Regions from separate parts of the Homo sapiens genome. Here region 1 is linked to region 2. Evidence: fine-mapped expression QTL. Tissue or cell type: thyroid. Region 2 holds a variant in brackets; the other region holds the start of a gene. All regions are shown on one strand. Distances are between the middles of the regions.

What was found. PIP is the estimated chance that this variant, and not a neighbour inherited with it, causes the effect.
Region 1: it holds the start of ZMYM3, and the variant in region 2 is fine-mapped to the expression of ZMYM3 in thyroid (GTEx, PIP above 0.99).

Annotation. Positions count from the first base shown.
Region 1 is chrX:71,250,575-71,258,753 of GRCh38, reverse strand. It overlaps ZMYM3 (zinc finger MYM-type containing 3), which reads left to right and starts at 4,614. Exons shown (of 25, transcript NM_201599.3): 1 at 4,614-4,725; 2 at 5,480-6,165; 3 at 7,153-7,196; 4 at 7,510-7,576; 5 at 8,028-8,179. The coding sequence starts at 5,499. It overlaps LOC105373247 (a long non-coding RNA gene), which reads right to left and starts at 3,946. Exons shown (of 4, transcript XR_938434.2): 1 at 3,754-3,946. RefSeq lists silencers at 3,999-4,048, 4,069-4,118.
Region 2 is chrX:71,224,908-71,233,081 of GRCh38, reverse strand. GJB1 (gap junction protein beta 1) reads right to left here. Exons shown (of 2, transcript NM_000166.6): 2 at 7,566-8,174. Among named protein-coding and RNA genes, the nearest start is that of GJB1, 5.8 kb to the right of the region's middle. The variant C/A (reference allele first, on the strand shown) is at 4,902.

The sequences.
Region 1 (8,179 bases), 26 kb before region 2:
AAAAAAAAAAAAAAGGAAATACAAAATGCAGAAAATTATTTTTATTTATATATATATATTTTTTGAGACAGGGTCTTGCTCTATCACCCAGGCTGGAGGGCAGTGGCACAATCCTGGCTCACTGCAACCTCCAGCCTTACCCTCCCGAGTAGCTGGGACCACATGCATGCACCACTGCCCTCAGATAATTTTTTGTATTTTTGGTAGAGACAGGGTTTCACCATGTTGCCCAGGCTTGTCTCGAACTCCTGAGCTGCCACCACGCCAGCTAATTTTTGTATTTTTTAGTAGAGACGGGTTTCACCACGTTGGTCAAGCTGGTCTTGAAGTCCTGACCTCAAATGATCCATCCGCCTCGGCCTCCCAAAGTGCGGCCTCCCACCGTGCCTGGCCAGCCCTTATTTTTAGGTGCTAACATTTTTTCATGATTATAAAAACAATATGTGCTCAGTAGAACAGTTTAGAAAATACAAGGCTGGGAGTGGTGGCTCACGCCTTTAGCAATCCCAGCACTTTGGGAGGCCGAGGTGGGTGGATCACTTGAGGTCAGGAGTTCGAGACCAACCATAGCCAACATGGTGGAACCCATCTGTACTAAAAAAAATACAAAAATTAGCTGGTGTGGTGGCACACGCCTGTAGTTCCAGCTACTCGGGAGGCTGAGGCATAAGGATCGCTTGAACCTGAGAAGCAGAGGTTGCAGTGAGCCGAGACCATGCCACTGCACTCCAGCCTGGGAGACAGAGTGAGACTCTGTCTCAAAAAAAAAAAAAAAAAGTTTAGTAAATACAAAATGCAGAAAATTATTTTTATTTATATATTTATTTATTTTTTTGAGACAGAGTCTTGCTCTATCGCCCAGGCTGGGGACAGTGGCACAATCTCGGCTTACTGCAACCTCCAGCCTTACCCTCTTGAGTAGCTGGGACCACAGGCGTGCACCACTACGCCTGGATAATTTTTTGTGCTTTTGGTAGAGATGGGGTTTCACCGTGTTGCCCAGTCTGGTCTCCAACTCCTGAGCTCAAGCAATCCACCCACCTCGACCTCCCAAAGTGCTGGGATCACAGGCGTGAGCCTCTGCGCTCGGCCTAAATTTTTTTAAATAAAAATTTTATTTACGGTCAGGCGCGGTGGCTCACGCCTGTGATCCCAGCACTTTGGGAGGCCGAGGCGGGTGGATCACGAGGTCAGGAGATTGAGACCATCCTGGCTAACACGGTGAAACCCCATCTCTACTAAAAATACAAAAAATTAGCCGGGCGTGGTGGCGGGCGCCTGTAGTCCCAGCTACTCGGGAGCCTGAGGCAGGAGAATGACGTGAACCCGGGAGGTGGAGCTTGCGGTGAGCTGAGATTGGGCCACTGCACTCCAGCCTGGGCGACAGAGCAAGACTCCGTCTCAAAAACAAAACAAAACAAAACAAAACATATATATATATATATTTGAGAGATGAAGTCTCGCTCTGTGGCCCAGGCTGGAGTGCAGTGGCTCAGTCTCAGCTTACCACAACCTCCGCCTCCCGGGTTCAAGCGATTCTCCTGACTCCCAAAGTGCTGGGATTACAGGAGTTACTGCACCAGGCCCACTTTATTTTTTAGAGCAGTTTTGGCATCACTGCAAAATTGAGCTGAAAGTATCAAGAGTCCTTTGTACCCCTCTCCACACACAGACACAGCCTCCCTATCAACATCCTGTCCAGAGTGGTAAATTTCTTGCAGTGATGAATATACAGTGACACATTATCAACCAAAGGCCATAGTTTACATAAGGGCTTCCTTTTGGTGTTGTACATTCTATGGGTTTTAATTTTTTTAAATAAAGATTTTATTTTTTAAGAGCAATTTTAGTTTCACAGCAAAACTGACAGGTAGGTCCGGAGAGTCCCATATACCTCCTTCCCCCATGCAGTCACGGCTCCCCTGACTACCAACATCCCTATCAGAGTGGTAAATTTGTTAAAATCGATGAACCTACATTAACACATCATTACTAACCAAAGCCTGCGGTTTACATTAGAGTTAGTTCACCCTTGGTGTTTACATTCTGTATCTTTGAACAAATGTATACTTACAAGTATCCACTATTACAGTATCATGAGAGTATTTTCGCTACCGTAAAAATCCTCTGTGCTGTCTGCCATTAGTTGTTTTTTGTTTTTGTTTTTTTAATGTGGGGTTTTGTTTTGTTTGGTTTGAGACAGAGCCCTCGTCTGTCGCCCCGGGCTGGAGTGCAGTGGCGCCATCTGAGCTCGCTGCAATTTCTGCCTCCCAGCTCAAGTGATCCTCACACCTCCGCCTCCTGAGTAGCTGGGACTACAGGTGCACACCAGCACACCTTGCTAATTTTTTGTATTTTTTGTAGAGAAGGGGTTTCACCATGTTGCTCAGGCTGGTTTGGAACTCCCGGGCTCAAAGGATCCAACCGTCTTGGCATCCCAAAGTGCCAGGATTACAGGCGTGAGTCACTGCGCCAGACTTAAAATGTGGTTGTTAATGACTACGTCTGTTGCATAACCAAAATCCCCTATTATTGGGCATTTAGATTGTTTCCTTATCTGTTTTAAAGAGGAGAAAACTAAGGCCCTTCACTTGACAAGTCACTTGTCCAAAGTCACCTGGCTAAAAAGTAGGCAGAACTGATATTAGAAATCTGGTCTGACTCCAGAACCCATTCTTAGGCCACCACACTGCGTCTAGAATTAATAACACACCACTTAACCCCGTTAGATCAGCTCCCCTCAACTTGAAAGATAGTGACCAGGCACCTCCACAAGCAGAGCAGCCAAGGATTCAAGTATATGTTGAGGAAGGCAGGCAATACAGAAAAAACTAGGTGGCTCAACTGAGATGGAACAAGCAGAAAATGCAAAGGGGAGGTCCAGGAATAGAAATAAACAGGAGGTAGGAGATGGGTACACAGAATGCTGGTTAAGACAAAGAGAAAGCTGGATTTGGGAAATCTAAAAGTAAGAAACTCTGGCTTTTATCTCTGTATGTAGGAGGGAGCAAAGATAACCTCAAGGCCATGTGGGGAGCTAGCAAGGATAAGGTTTCTGGGAAAAGGAATGAGAAAAGGGAGGGTAAACTCCCGAGGACTACAAGAGCAGGAGAGGCTTTGTGTGGCCAGGAGGAGAGGCCAGAAGTCAACGAGGCAGGCTAGAATAGGCACTGGATACCAAACCTTCCTGTTCCTAAGGAGACTTCCTTCCAGCCTGAGCCTCCTCTAGTAGTTCGGCTACTAAATGCTCTCAGCCCTTAGGGGCTGTGGTGGGAAGTGGGGAGCGGGGATTGTAAAGTGCTCTAACTATTAATATAATGCGGACTGAGAATGGATGCTGGCACAATTTTTTAAAGGCAGTAGGCTTAACGCTAGTGCCACCTACCCCTACTCCACTTCTCTAGCCTAACCTCAGCCACACCCACATGCTAAGGACCATCCAGGAGGGGGGAGCGTGTAGCGCGCCTGCGTGCTCGTGCGCACGAGAAGCAGAGAGGCAGAGAAGGAGACAAAAAGAGATAGGGGGAGAGAGAGAGAGAGAGCGAGAAGAGAGAGACAGACAAGGACAGAAAGGGGGCTGGAGGAGAAAGAGAGAGAGAGATACAGAGAGAGAGAGAGAGAGAGAGAGAGAGAGAGAGAGAGAGAGAGAGAGAGAGAGAGAGAGAGAGATCAGCCCTGGTGAGGGAGGAAAACTCCATAGATAATACAGGGAGCTCCTGCAGGAAGACTCAGGGAGAAGATCCCAGAACTTACCCTAAGACTGTTGAGAGAGTAGGGGGTAGCTTTGCAGGACCTGGTTTGGGGGTCATCAAGCAGTAACGGTTACTGCACAGGCGTTGCCACTGAGCCAGAGCCATTTAACCCGACCTGTGTGGCTGGGGATCAAGCTTCAGATACCCCATAACTCTGACTCTCAGACTGTTTTGGGGGCCCCGTGGCTGCAGACAAGGGAAGGAGGGGCACGTGAGGGCTGGGTCCCTGCCTCCCCCCGTCCTCCGCTGTCACTCACTACCCCAACAGTCGCCCAGGGGGCGGGACCCGGAGAGGTGGGGATGGGGGAGGGTAATCTTGGCAGGCGCCTGCTGCATGGCGTAGGTAGGGACTATTGAGGGGGGCGGACGCCGAGGGGGTGAACACGAGTGGGAAGCTAAGAGAGACACGGGGAGGGGGAGGGGACCGGGAACCATTTGAATGAGAGGAGGGGATCACGGGTAGAGTGGGCTCCAGGAGGTAGGGCGAGCAGGGTGTGACGGGGGCCAGACTCTTGAGCCAGGTAAGGGGAGCAGGTGCGTAGATCTGTGTTTTTTGTGGGTGAGCGCACTCGGCCCTTGGGTGGAAAGGGGACGCCGCCTTTCCCGGGGGGCCGGCTTCAAAGCTCCAGAGGCTATCTTTTCCTTCTCAACTAACGGGGCCCCGGGCGGGGGCTCAGGCGCCGTCTCTAGTGGCTGCATTCCACTCCGCAATTTCCAGGCGGCCACTGGACTGGGAGTCTCGCGCCGGGGGCCGGCGCTGTCTCGCGAGCCCCCTCCTCGAGCCAGCCAATGGGGTTGGTTGCTGGCACCGCCCGCCCGCCTGGTGCAGAGCGCTGGGCGCTGCGAGCGGCGCTGCCATTTAAAGGGGCCGCGACCCCTGTCCCGGCTGCTAGGGAGGGAGGTAGAGAAGGAGCGCGGGGCCGTCGCTGTCTGCAGTTCTAGGCTTGTAGCCTTTGCACTAACCCTGCCGCAGGTAGGGGTCGGGCCTGCTCAAGCCGAACCGAACCTGCAAGCGGGATCTTGCAGTAGCCGGGAGGCGGTGGTGGGGGGGTCTAAGGAGAGATCGTAGCTCCAAAATGTCTTCCTGTAAATGCCTGAGGTTGGGGGTGGGCAACAGGAGAAGGGAGGACTGGAGGAGCAATGGGAAAGGGGGACGGGGCTGAGGAAGTGGGCGACCTGAAAGGTAACTGGGGGGAAGGGGTTGCGAAGGGCAGTTTGTGGGGGCGGGGGAAGGGCCGAGGGAGGACCTAGCAACGCGGGGAGGGGGGGTGGGGCCAGACAGGGTGGGTAAAGACTGGGGAGCTGGGGGGCTCCTGCAGAGTGGGGAGGGAATAGAAACTGAGATCGCGGGGGCGGGAAAGGCTCCTGGTGGCGACGGCCTTAGGAGACTCTAAGGGGGCGTTCAGCCTGAGTTGCGGGGGGTAAAAGGTAAGGGGGGAAGGGAATGGGAGTTGCAGTCGAGTAGGGGGGTGGGCGGGTAGAACGACCGACTGCCTGGCCAGTGTGGGCACGGGGCCAGGGCGGGGAACGCCTCTCCCCACTGGGGGCGCTGTATTGGGGGGAGTGGTCATTAGGACTAAAGCCTTCGGAAATGCTTGTAGATTGTGGTGGTGGGGGCTGCTCATGAGAAATCCAAGTGGATGATGGGGTGTGTCTCAGAGCCTATATAAGAAGGAATTCAGGCTAAGACCACCTCTACTGCCCCCTCTTCTACTCCTAATCTGCAGTACATATCCAGCCATACTCATGGACCCCAGTGATTTCCCCAGTCCATTTGACCCATTGACCCTGCCAGAGAAGCCCCTGGCTGGAGACCTACCAGTAGACATGGAATTTGGAGAGGATCTACTGGAATCCCAGACTGCCCCAACTCGAGGATGGGCCCCCCCTGGCCCTTCTCCATCCTCGGGAGCCCTGGACCTGCTTGATACCCCTGCTGGCCTGGAAAAAGACCCTGGAGTCCTGGATGGAGCCACTGAGTTGCTGGGGCTGGGGGGGCTGCTCTATAAAGCCCCCTCTCCCCCGGAGGTGGACCACGGTCCTGAGGGAACCCTGGCATGGGATGCAGGAGATCAGACCCTAGAGCCTGGACCAGGGGGCCAGACCCCTGAGGTGGTACCACCTGATCCAGGGGCTGGGGCAAATTCCTGTTCACCTGAGGGGCTACTAGAGCCTTTGGCTCCAGATTCTCCAATAACACTGCAGTCCCCACATATTGAAGAGGAGGAGACCACCTCCATAGCTACTGCAAGAAGGGGCTCCCCTGGGCAGGAGGAGGAGCTTCCCCAAGGGCAGCCACAGAGCCCAAATGCCCCGCCTAGCCCTTCAGTGGGAGAGACTCTGGGGGATGGAATCAACAGTTCTCAGACCAAACCTGGGGGCTCTAGCCCCCCTGCACATCCTTCCTTGCCAGGTAGGTTGCCTAATTATCTGGAGAATCAGGGCTGGGAGAGGGTGGTGGTAAGGAGGGGTGGCTATGTGCTTTGGGAAGTAGTGGGGAGGAGGAGGGTGGAGAGATAAGTGTAGGGATGTGTGTGGGGAAGGACTTGGGGTTTACGAGGGAGGAGTGGGGTGGTGTGTAGAGGAAGATTAAGGAAAGTAGGGGTGGGCACAGGCTGTGGGGGAGGAATGGGGTAAGGTTTCAGGGAGCGTAGGTTGGGAGGAGTGAATTTGGTGGGAAGGGTTCCCTTTTTCCTACCCCAGTGGGCTTTTGGTGCCAGAGTCCTTCCTTCAGGATTTGGGGGAGTACACCAGGCTTCTTGGTTCTAAGACCTTTACAGCTTTTTGGTTCTAGATGGGAGTGGGATTTCTGGGTTTGATGAATGGTAACTAGGTTCTGGAGCCCCTAACAGCATAAGGATTTCAGCAGAGCGATAGAAATGCAGGGTCTAGGATTGCGTCTCTGATAGGGGAGGGACAACCTTGACTTGAGAGGCTCTAGTGTCTCCCCTCTTCTGCCTAGTGGTGTGCCTCTATCAGGCTGTGACGAGGGTCTTAGGGCTTATATAACCACCTGAATCCAGGGGAAGCTACCCATACACTGATGCTTCCTTTTCCTTTTGCTACCTTTGGGTGGTTGTGTGTGTTTTTCATTGGTAAAATATAAATTCTTAATGAAAGGTATATTACCTGTGTTTCCTTAACCCCCAAGGATTGGGACAGAAAGCTGGTGGGAAGGATAGATTTTTTTTTTTTCATGGAATAGCTGCACGTGCACCCCCCCACCCTTAGTACAGAGCCTGAGGTAACCCTGAGAGGGGCCCCAAGAAGCCACAGGCACTCGAGTTTTCCCTTTCAGTTTTGAGTAAGTTCTTCCCCAGGAATGGAGGCGGGGGTTGGGCCGGGGAGAGGGTGGTGAGGGCAGGCTCAACATTTAGGCTGCCTTCTGCTTCCTTTGCAGGAGATGGCCTGACTGCGAAGGCGAGTGAGAAGCCGCCTGAACGGGTGAGGGGGAGGGGATTGGAAGGAGTCTGGTTCCCCCTTAGCTCTGGGAAGGACAGACCCTTCATTTTCCCTCCCAGATGTTGTTCTGTAGAGAGTGTGTGTAAGGAGAGTTAGGAGGAGGGAGGGAGCACTAGTGTCTACTGCTTGTTGGGGAGAAAGTCCAACCTCCTTTTCTTCCCTCCTCCTAAGGGCTGGGCCAAGGGTCCCCACTCTCCCTTCCCCCTCCCATCTTCTATCCCCCCCCAAACCCTGTACTAGTGTTAGCCTGGCCAGGGTGTCAGTTTTCCTCCCCTCCCATCTTTCCGAGGTACAGAAGAGAAGCGAGCGCGTTAGGAGAGCAGAACCTCCAAAACCTGAGGTTGTAGATTCCACTGAGAGCAGTAAGTAGGATTTGAGGAAGTGTGACCTGGGAGTTCTGGGTGTGGAAAAGGTCCGAAAGTGGCATGCGGCAGGGCATGGATCTTCTAGCTCCTGCCGTCCTGCTCCATGAAGCGCATGAAGTGCCTGTCTCTGCTATGGGTTGGCATGGGAACCAGGGGCAGTGGGGGAAATTGAAAACAAGAGCAGTGAGAATGGCGAGTTTCCTGTTTCAGCTATGCCATCTCTGTCTCCGAATCTTCTCATTTAGAGCCTCTCCCTTTCCCTCCCTGGGAGGTTACAGAGTAACCAAGGGAGAGAGACACCAAGGTCTTAAGATACTGATGTAACAAGGGCCAGGGTGTAAAGGCCGGAACAACAGGGATCCCAGGAGAGGGACTGAACTGTTGGTCAGGGGATGGTTGGAGACCTGGTTTGGTGGCCTTTCTCATGTCCATCCCCCCACTTTCTCAGTTCCAGTGTCAGATGAGGATTCTGATGCCATGGTAGATGACCCCAATGATGAGGACTTTGTGCCATTCCGGCCCCGGCGCTCTCCTCGCATGTCCCTACGCTCAAGTGTGTCACAAAGGGCCGGGCGCTCTGCAGTGGGCACCAAGATGACT
Region 2 (8,174 bases):
CCAGCCAGAGTGGTTACTTTGGAATAGAGGAAACAGTGCAGGTTTTGGATTAGAATGGGACTAGGTTTTAATTCTAGCTCTGCAGTGCAACCTTTGGACATATTACTTAACTTCTCTGAGTCTCCATTTCCTCATCTACAAGTATGGGGATAATAATAGCTACCTTGCCAGTACTGAGATTATACATGTCAGTGCTTAATGTAGCACCAAATCTGGCACATATTAGGTGCTCCATAGTATGGTGCGCCTGGCCCACCTAAGTCATTTCTAAGTCTGGTAATAAAGTTGCAGACCATATTATGATTGGGACACATCCTTTTCATTAAAACTACATTAAGAGTTAAGGCACTTGGCAGAGCGCAGTGGATCACGCCTGTAATCCCAGCACTTTGGGAGGCCAAGGCAGGCGGATTACCTGAGGTCAGGAGTTGGAGACCAGCCTGGCCAACATGGTGAAACCCCATCTCTACAAAAAAAATACAAAAATTAGCCAGGTTGGTGGGACACGCCTGTAATCCCAGCTACTCAGGAGGTTGAGGCAGGAGAATCCCTTGAAACCAGGAGGCGGAGGTTGCAGTGAGCCAAGATTGCGCCATTGCACTCCAGCCTGAGCGACAGAGCAAGACTCCATCTCAAAAAAAAAAAAAAGGCACTCCCCTCACAGCCATCCTCCCACATACATGTTAATGTGGTCATATGTATCAATACAATGATATATCATATGCATGCAAACATACAGACTTGCTTGCTTAAGCACACGCACATGACTATGGACAGTTAGACAGTCAAGAAAACATGTTAAGCCAGGCACAGTGGCTCACGCCTGTAATCCCAGCCCTTTGGGAGGCTGAGGAGGGAGGATCACTGGAGCTAGGAGTTTGGGGTTGCAGTGAGCTATGATGGCACCACTGCATTACAGCCTGGGCAACAGAGTGAGACCCTGTCTAAAAAAAAAAAAAAGCAAGCATGTTAATTAGGTGAGACAGAGTTTAACTCAGTGTTTGAGAGAATTGGTGAATAGCTGGAGAAACAGCGAAGATGGTGAGATGAAATAATAACAGCACACCCTTGTGTAGGGCTTACTATCGACCAGGCCTTGTTTGAAGTGCTTTATATATAATGGACACATTTAATCCTCACTACAGCCCTGTGACACAGGTACTCATGCTTTATAGATGAGGAAACTAAGGCCTAGAGTGGCCAAGTAACATGGTCAAACTCACAAAAGTAGGAAGTAAACAATGCTTTTTTTTTTTTTTGGAGACAGTTTCACTCTTGTTACCCAGGCTAGAATGCAATGGTGCGATCTCGCCTCACTGCAACTTCCGCCTCCCGGGCTCAAGCTATTCTCCTGCCTCAGCCTTCCTGAGTAGCTGGGATTACAGGCATGCGCCACCACGCCTGGCTAATTTTGTATTTTTAGCAGAGACAGAGTTTCTCCATGTTGGTCAGGCTGGTCTCGAACTCCCGACCTCAGGCGATCTGCCCACCTCAGCCTCCCAAAGTGCTGGGATTACAGGCGTGAGCCACTGCACCTGGCCAACATTGGTCTTAATCACTATGTGACACTAACTTTTCACAGGGGCTTCAGTTGTGGTGAAAAAAATGGAGAACAGTTGGTCACCATCCTGTGTAAATTACGCTTTCTCCTTGAAGTCCACTTTCAAATAATTCTGGTCTTTCTTCCATAGTTCACTGTCAACTTTAACACATCTGTTTGTGCAAAGGTCTGCCCTGATCTGGATCTCCTGAAGACCTCTACAGTCCATCCATGATCATGAGTACAGAATTGCCTGTTAGTCTAGTAGGGGCTTAACTTTTATGTCAGAAGGGCTTCTACACGTGATACTGGAGTCCAGACTCCTGTGCAAACCTGCATGCATTTCTATGAGACTTTTCACTGACCAGCCCCGACCTGCTTTGCCAGTCTCACCTCCTACTGCAACCACCCCACTCCCCATCCCATGCATTTTCTGCTCTAGTCACAGTGAACACATTCTACTCTCTCACGACTCTGAATCTTTGCACATGCATATGTCTTCCTCCCCGCTGCCCTGAATCCCACAGGCTACTAAGCACCTACTATGTGTTAAGCTTATGCAAGTGATTACCACACAATAGTTTCTTTCTTTTCCTCCCTCCCTTCCCCCCTTCCCCCTTCCCCCTCTTCCTTCCCCTTCCCCTTCCCCTTCTCCTTCCTTCCTTCCTTCCTTCCTTCCTTCCTTCCTTCCTTCCTTCCTTCCTCTCTTTCTTTCTTTCTTTCTTTCTGATGGAGTCTTGCTCTGTCAGCCAGGCTGGAGCACAATAGCATGATCTCAGTTCACTGCAACCTCCCCCTCCTGGGTTCAAGCAATTCTCCTGCTTCAGCCTCCCAAGTAGCTGGGATGACAGGCGAGTGCCACCAGGCCCAGCTGATTTTTCTATTTTTAATAGAGACAGGGTTTCGCCATGTTGGCCAGGCTGGTCTCCAATTCCTGGCCTCAAGAGATCCACCTGCCTAGGCCTCCCAAAGTGCTGGGATTACAGACGTGAGCCACCGCACCTGGCCTCTTTCTTTTTTTAAGACAGATTTTATGAGCTAATCTTTCTTTCCTTCCTCCCTCCCTCCCTCCCTCCCTCCTTCCTTCCTTCCTTCCTTTTTTTCAGAGTCTCACTCTGTCACCCAGGCTGGAGTACAGTGGCACGATCTCGGCTTACTGCAGCCTCTGCCTCCCAGGTTCAACTGATTCTCCTGCCTCAGCCTCCTGAGTAGGTGGGACTACAGGCGCCCACCACCACGCCTGCCTGATTTTTGTATTTTTAATAGAGACAGGGTTTTGCCATATTGACCAGGCTGGTCTTGAACTCCTGGCCTCAACAGATCCGCCTGCTTCAGCCTCCCAAAGTGCTGGGATTACAGGCGTGAGCCACTGTGCCTGGCCTGTGTGCTTTTCTTTTTTGTGTGTGTGTGGTGGTGGTGGTGGTGGTGGTATTTTTTAGAGATGGGGTCTCACTGTGTAGTCCAGGCTGGTCTCCAAGCAATCCTCCCACCTCATCTTCTTGAGCAGCTAGGATTACAAGTGTGAGTCACCGCACCTGGCACCATATAATGTGATAAGCGCTCTTATCACATACACCACAGTCATATTGTGGGAATTCAGAGTGGAGGTCTGAATTGGAGAGTCTCTCCAAGGGACTTGATCAGCGGGGAAAGAAGAGTTGATGGCTTCACAGAGGAAACGACGTTTGAGATGAGTTTTGAATGATTAGGAGCTTTCCAGTCAAAGGAGGGAAAGGAAACCTCAAATTACCTTTGGCTCTTCCACACCCCACAACTCAGACATGAAGTCCTGTTGTAGGTTCTACATCCAAAATGTCTCTCACACCTGTCTCCTCTTCATATTCCTCTGCCACTGTCCTAGTCCTACAGGCGCCACTTGGGCTATTGCAACAGCTCCATAACTGGTCTTTTTTTTTAGAGACAGGGTCTCACTATGTTGACCAGACTGGTCTCAAAGTCTTGGGTTCAAGGAATCCTTCCACCTCAGCCTCCCAAGTAGGTGGGACCACAGGTGTGCCACTGCACCTGGCAGTACCTGGTCAATCTGTCTCAGTCTTCAATCCCCAATCCAGTCTCCATGCAGCTGCTGGCTGACCTTCCAAACACACAAGTTTGAAGGTATCACCCCCGTCATACCTTTTTTTTTTTTTTGAGACAGAGTCGCTCTGTCACCCAGGCTGGAGTGCAGTGGCATGATCTCGGCTCATTGCAACCTCTGCCTCCCAGGTTCAAGCGATTCTTATGCCTCAGCCTCCCAAGTAGCTGAGATTACAGGCGTGCGCCACCACACGGGGCTAATTTTTGTATTTTTGGTAGAGACGGGGTTTCACCATGTTGGCCAGGCTGGTCTCAAACTCCTGACCTCAAGTGATCCACCTGCCTCGGCCTCCCAAAGTGCTGGGATTACAGGCGTGAGCCACCGTGCCTGGCTTTTTTTTTTTTTTTTTTTTTTTTTTGTGATGGAGTCTCACTCACTCTGTCACTCAGGCTGGAGTGCAGTGGCGCGATCTCGGCTCACTGCAACCTCCACCTCCCGGATTCAAGCAATTCTCCCACCTCAGCCTCCTGAGTAGCTGGGACTATGGGCATGTGCCACCACGCCTGGCTAATTTTTGTATTTTTAGTAGAGACAGTGTTTCACCATGTTGGCCAGGATGGTCTCGAACTCCTGGCTTCAAGTGATCTGCCTGCTTTGGCTTCCCAAATTGCTGGGATTACAGGCAACAGCCACTGTGCCCAGCCAATTCCTGTCATATCTGTAGGGTATTTTTTGTCTGTTTTATTTGCCCCTTGCTGGAATGTCCCAATCCATTTTCCATTTGACCCTGTACATTCTCCCTGGCCTACTCCAGGAATCAACAGGAGCTTAGCTTGGTACGATTGTGTAGCCCCTTCTGCACCATAGGCCAGGTCTGGCATTTAAGTACTTTGGAATCAGTAAATGGAGCAAGCATTCCCCTCTAGCCCCCACTGTGTGCACCCAGGCTATCTGATTGAACATCTGAACCAGTTTGTGGTTGCCATGCCAATTCTCTATGGATACCACAGCTTGCTTTCAAACCCCAACTCAGCTGGCTGGAGGCCTTGATTACTCTCCTAGTTCATCTGCCTCTGTTCCTTTGCCCCCCAGCTCCTGGCATCTCTGTGCATAGACACCTCTAAAAGATCATAGACATTCCTAAAAGGACCAGTTCCATGAGATACAGCATGCAAGAGCTTCCTGTTACTATGCCTTTTCTGCCCCCTGATCAGACCCCTTGAATATTGACCCTTAAATGAATCATGCTCAGGTTTGCAACCTCTCTTGGACTTTGCTGTTTGGACTGGTGTCCACTCCCTGGGGGAGCCAACACTATTATTG[C/A]CAAATTGTTTTAACTAGCTTCAGCCTACCTGAACCAGCCTCACTCCTTTCTGGCTCATTGAGAATTCTAGCATGTCGTAAGGCCATGGTCTCAGTGCTTATGATACTATCTTACCTTACTTTACCGTTAGTTCATAACCAGCTTTTGAACACATCTTGTCTGATTCTCAAAAAAGTTCTGTGAAAGAGGTAGAGAGGTTATTATTAACTCTCTATTGGAGATGAGGAAACAGACCTGGAGAGGGTAAATATCACGTGTCCAAGGGGACAGAGCTCATCAGTGGAGAACGAGGTCTCCTAATTCCAGTGTCCTCTTCATAACCCAGGTCACTCAGCACATTGAATTTCTACTGCGTGGCAGAGAGCATGCCTCATTTGCCTCTGTGTCTCTCTCTTATACTCTTGTGACAGAGCCTGATTTGAAAAGTCAGTCTTGGAGTCAGTCTAACTCTGCCTCCTACCTCCCTGAGACATTGTGTCCACCAGCTCCCCTCAAGGTTCCTTGGGCCTGTTCCTACCTGGTTCATGGGACCCAAGAATCCTGTGTCCCCCACTTGGGCTGTAACACCCAGCCTGATAGCTTTATTGTCCCACCACTGCCCCCTGGAGAGGAAAGCCTTGATATAGAGTTGGAGCCTCTTTCCAAGGGGGATTGGTAGAATCTTTGAAGAGAAACTACATTTCTGATGTGATGGTGGGGGTTAGCATTTCTCAATGTGGAGAGGGCATGAGGTTCCCTGCTTCCGACCAGGACCAGGATGGAATTTTAAAAAGAAAATCTTTCTCCTGATGGCATGTTGTATGGAGAGGGGATGTGTTTGTTGTATTGTTGTGGGTGAAAAGGATGGATTTCGATAAGAAAAGGAATCTCTCTCACCGTGAGGGGGTGGGGACCTCTCCTCTGATGGAACATAATGTCAGTTTCTAAGGGGAAAGGAAATTTCTTGTAGGAAAGGAATGTTCCTCTTTTAAGGGAGAGGAAGCTCTCTCTCAGGGATTACTAAGTGTGGTGGAAAGGAATACTTACTCTCTCCTTTCTTTCTTTCAATTTTTTAAAAATAGAGATGGGAGGCCGGGCGCGGTTGCTCACACCTGTAATCCCAGCTCTTTGGGAGGCCGAGGCGGGCAGATCACGAGGTCAGGAGATTGAGACCATCCTGGCTAACACAGTGAAACCCCGTCTCTACTAAAAATACAAAAAAAAATTAGCCGGGCGTGGTGGCGGGCGCCTATTGTCCCAGCTACTCGGGAGGCTGAGGCAGGAGAACAGCGTGAACCCGGGAGGTGGAGCTTGCAGTGAGCCGAGATCGCGCCACTGTACTCCAGCCTGGGTGACAGAGCGAGACTCCGTCTCAAAAAAAAAAAAAATAGAGATAGGATCTTGCTATGCTGTCCAGGCTAGTCTTGAACTCCTGGCCTCATGCAATCCTCTTGCTTCGGCCTCTAAAGGTCTCATTTCCTTCCCTCCCTCCCTCCCTCTCTCCCTCCCTCCCTTCCTTCCTTCCTTCCTTTTCTTTCTTTGTTTCTTTCTTGACAAGGTCTCACTCTCTGGCCCGGGCTGGAGTGCAGTGGCGTGATCACAGCTGACTGCAGCCTCAACCTCCTCCTGGGCTCGAGTTATCCTCCCACCTCAGCATCCGAAATAGCTTGGGACTACAGGCACATGCCACCACACCTGACTAATTGTTTTATTTTATTTTTTTTGTAGAGATGGGGTCTCTCTATGTTGCTCAGACTGGTCTCAAACTCATGGGCTCAAGTGATTCTCTCCCCTTGGCCTTCCAAAGTGCTGGGACTACAGGCATGAGCCACCACATCCAGTCTTCCTTTTTTTTTTTTCTAAAGGAGAAATCTCAAATAAAGAAAACTTCCATGCTTTCTCTCCAAAGAGGAAAAACTGTCTCAAGGGAGAACAATTCACATGAGATTGTGTCTGATTTTCTCTCCCTTTCTGATATCCAGCACTTCCTACATGGAGTCCACATACTCTGAGAGGGAGTGGCAAATAATTTCTCCTGTTCGGAGGTAAGGAAGCTGAGGAGGCAAACTTGCCATGGGGGAAACTTTTACTCTGAGAGGCTATTTGTGGGGGCAGTGACTCTAAGGAAACCCCTGTGAGGCTGGGGGAAGATAATGCACTGTTACTTGGGGAAATCTTTCAGGAATCCCAGAAGCACAGAGTGTTGAAGGGAGCTGAGAGATGTGCTGGGCCAGTTCTCGTTTGCTCATAAGGAAGCTGAGGTTCGGGGAAGGGAATGCCCCGCTACTAAGTGACAGCATCAGGACTCCAGCGCAGCTTTTCCAAGTCTCAGCCTGGGGCATTTCCTACCACAGCTGACAGGGGAGGGTGATGCTGGTGAGGAAACTGCTGCTATGAAATGTTTGACCTGTGTGGAGGCATCTCTGGAGTGGGAAGCATTGATTCCTGAGAGAAGGAAACTGGGAAAGAGGATGAAATTAGGGGCTCTGTCCAGCTGAAAGGGGTCAGGGTCATCGTGCAACCCAACAGGTGGACTGTGGGACATCAGCTTGTAGGGGATGCTGAGTTTGGAGGGAGTAAGGAGATAGGTCTCCAGATGTGCGGGGGAGGGGCTCTCACCGAGGTACCCAGGGAATTGTGCCACTCTCTGGGGCAGGAGAAATTTCCCAATCATTTCTTGTCTCTTCAGAGGGAGTTGTCATTTTTAATCTTTTCAAAATCAGAGGAAGGAGGTATGTAAACTAAATCCCAATAAAGCTGTTATTAGACAATGAAAAAGACAAGAACCACAACAACAAAAGCAACAGGGAGGAATGGCTCCGGGGCTGGCTCTGCGGCCCAGAAGTACAGTGATTTCCTCATTTGCAGCTTCAGCTACTCAAGTAACTACTTCTTTTGCCCTGTTCCTTTCTTAATCAGTAAAAAACCAAGGCCAGCTCATCCTGGGGGAGGTCAGAGGTTGCAGGAGAAAGAACTTGACAAACACACAAGCCACCTCTTCATTTACTGTAAAATCCTGTTTAATGTGTAACATTTCAGGCAGAGAGAGGCCTTGGGGACTAGAGGCAGAGGTGGCCTTGACCAACCCCTGCTCCAACTTATCTGCCTGCTTCTCTCTCCCTAACTCCCTCACCCCAGACACCTCCTCCTTTTCCTTGTGGCCAGCAAGCACTATTCCTCCTTTACTAGTGCTGGCCACCCTCCCTTCTCCACCCACATGTCCACAGCACCCCTGCCCTCTGCTCCTCTTACCCACATCCCTCCTCACTGATGTGACTCCAGAAACAGGGTAT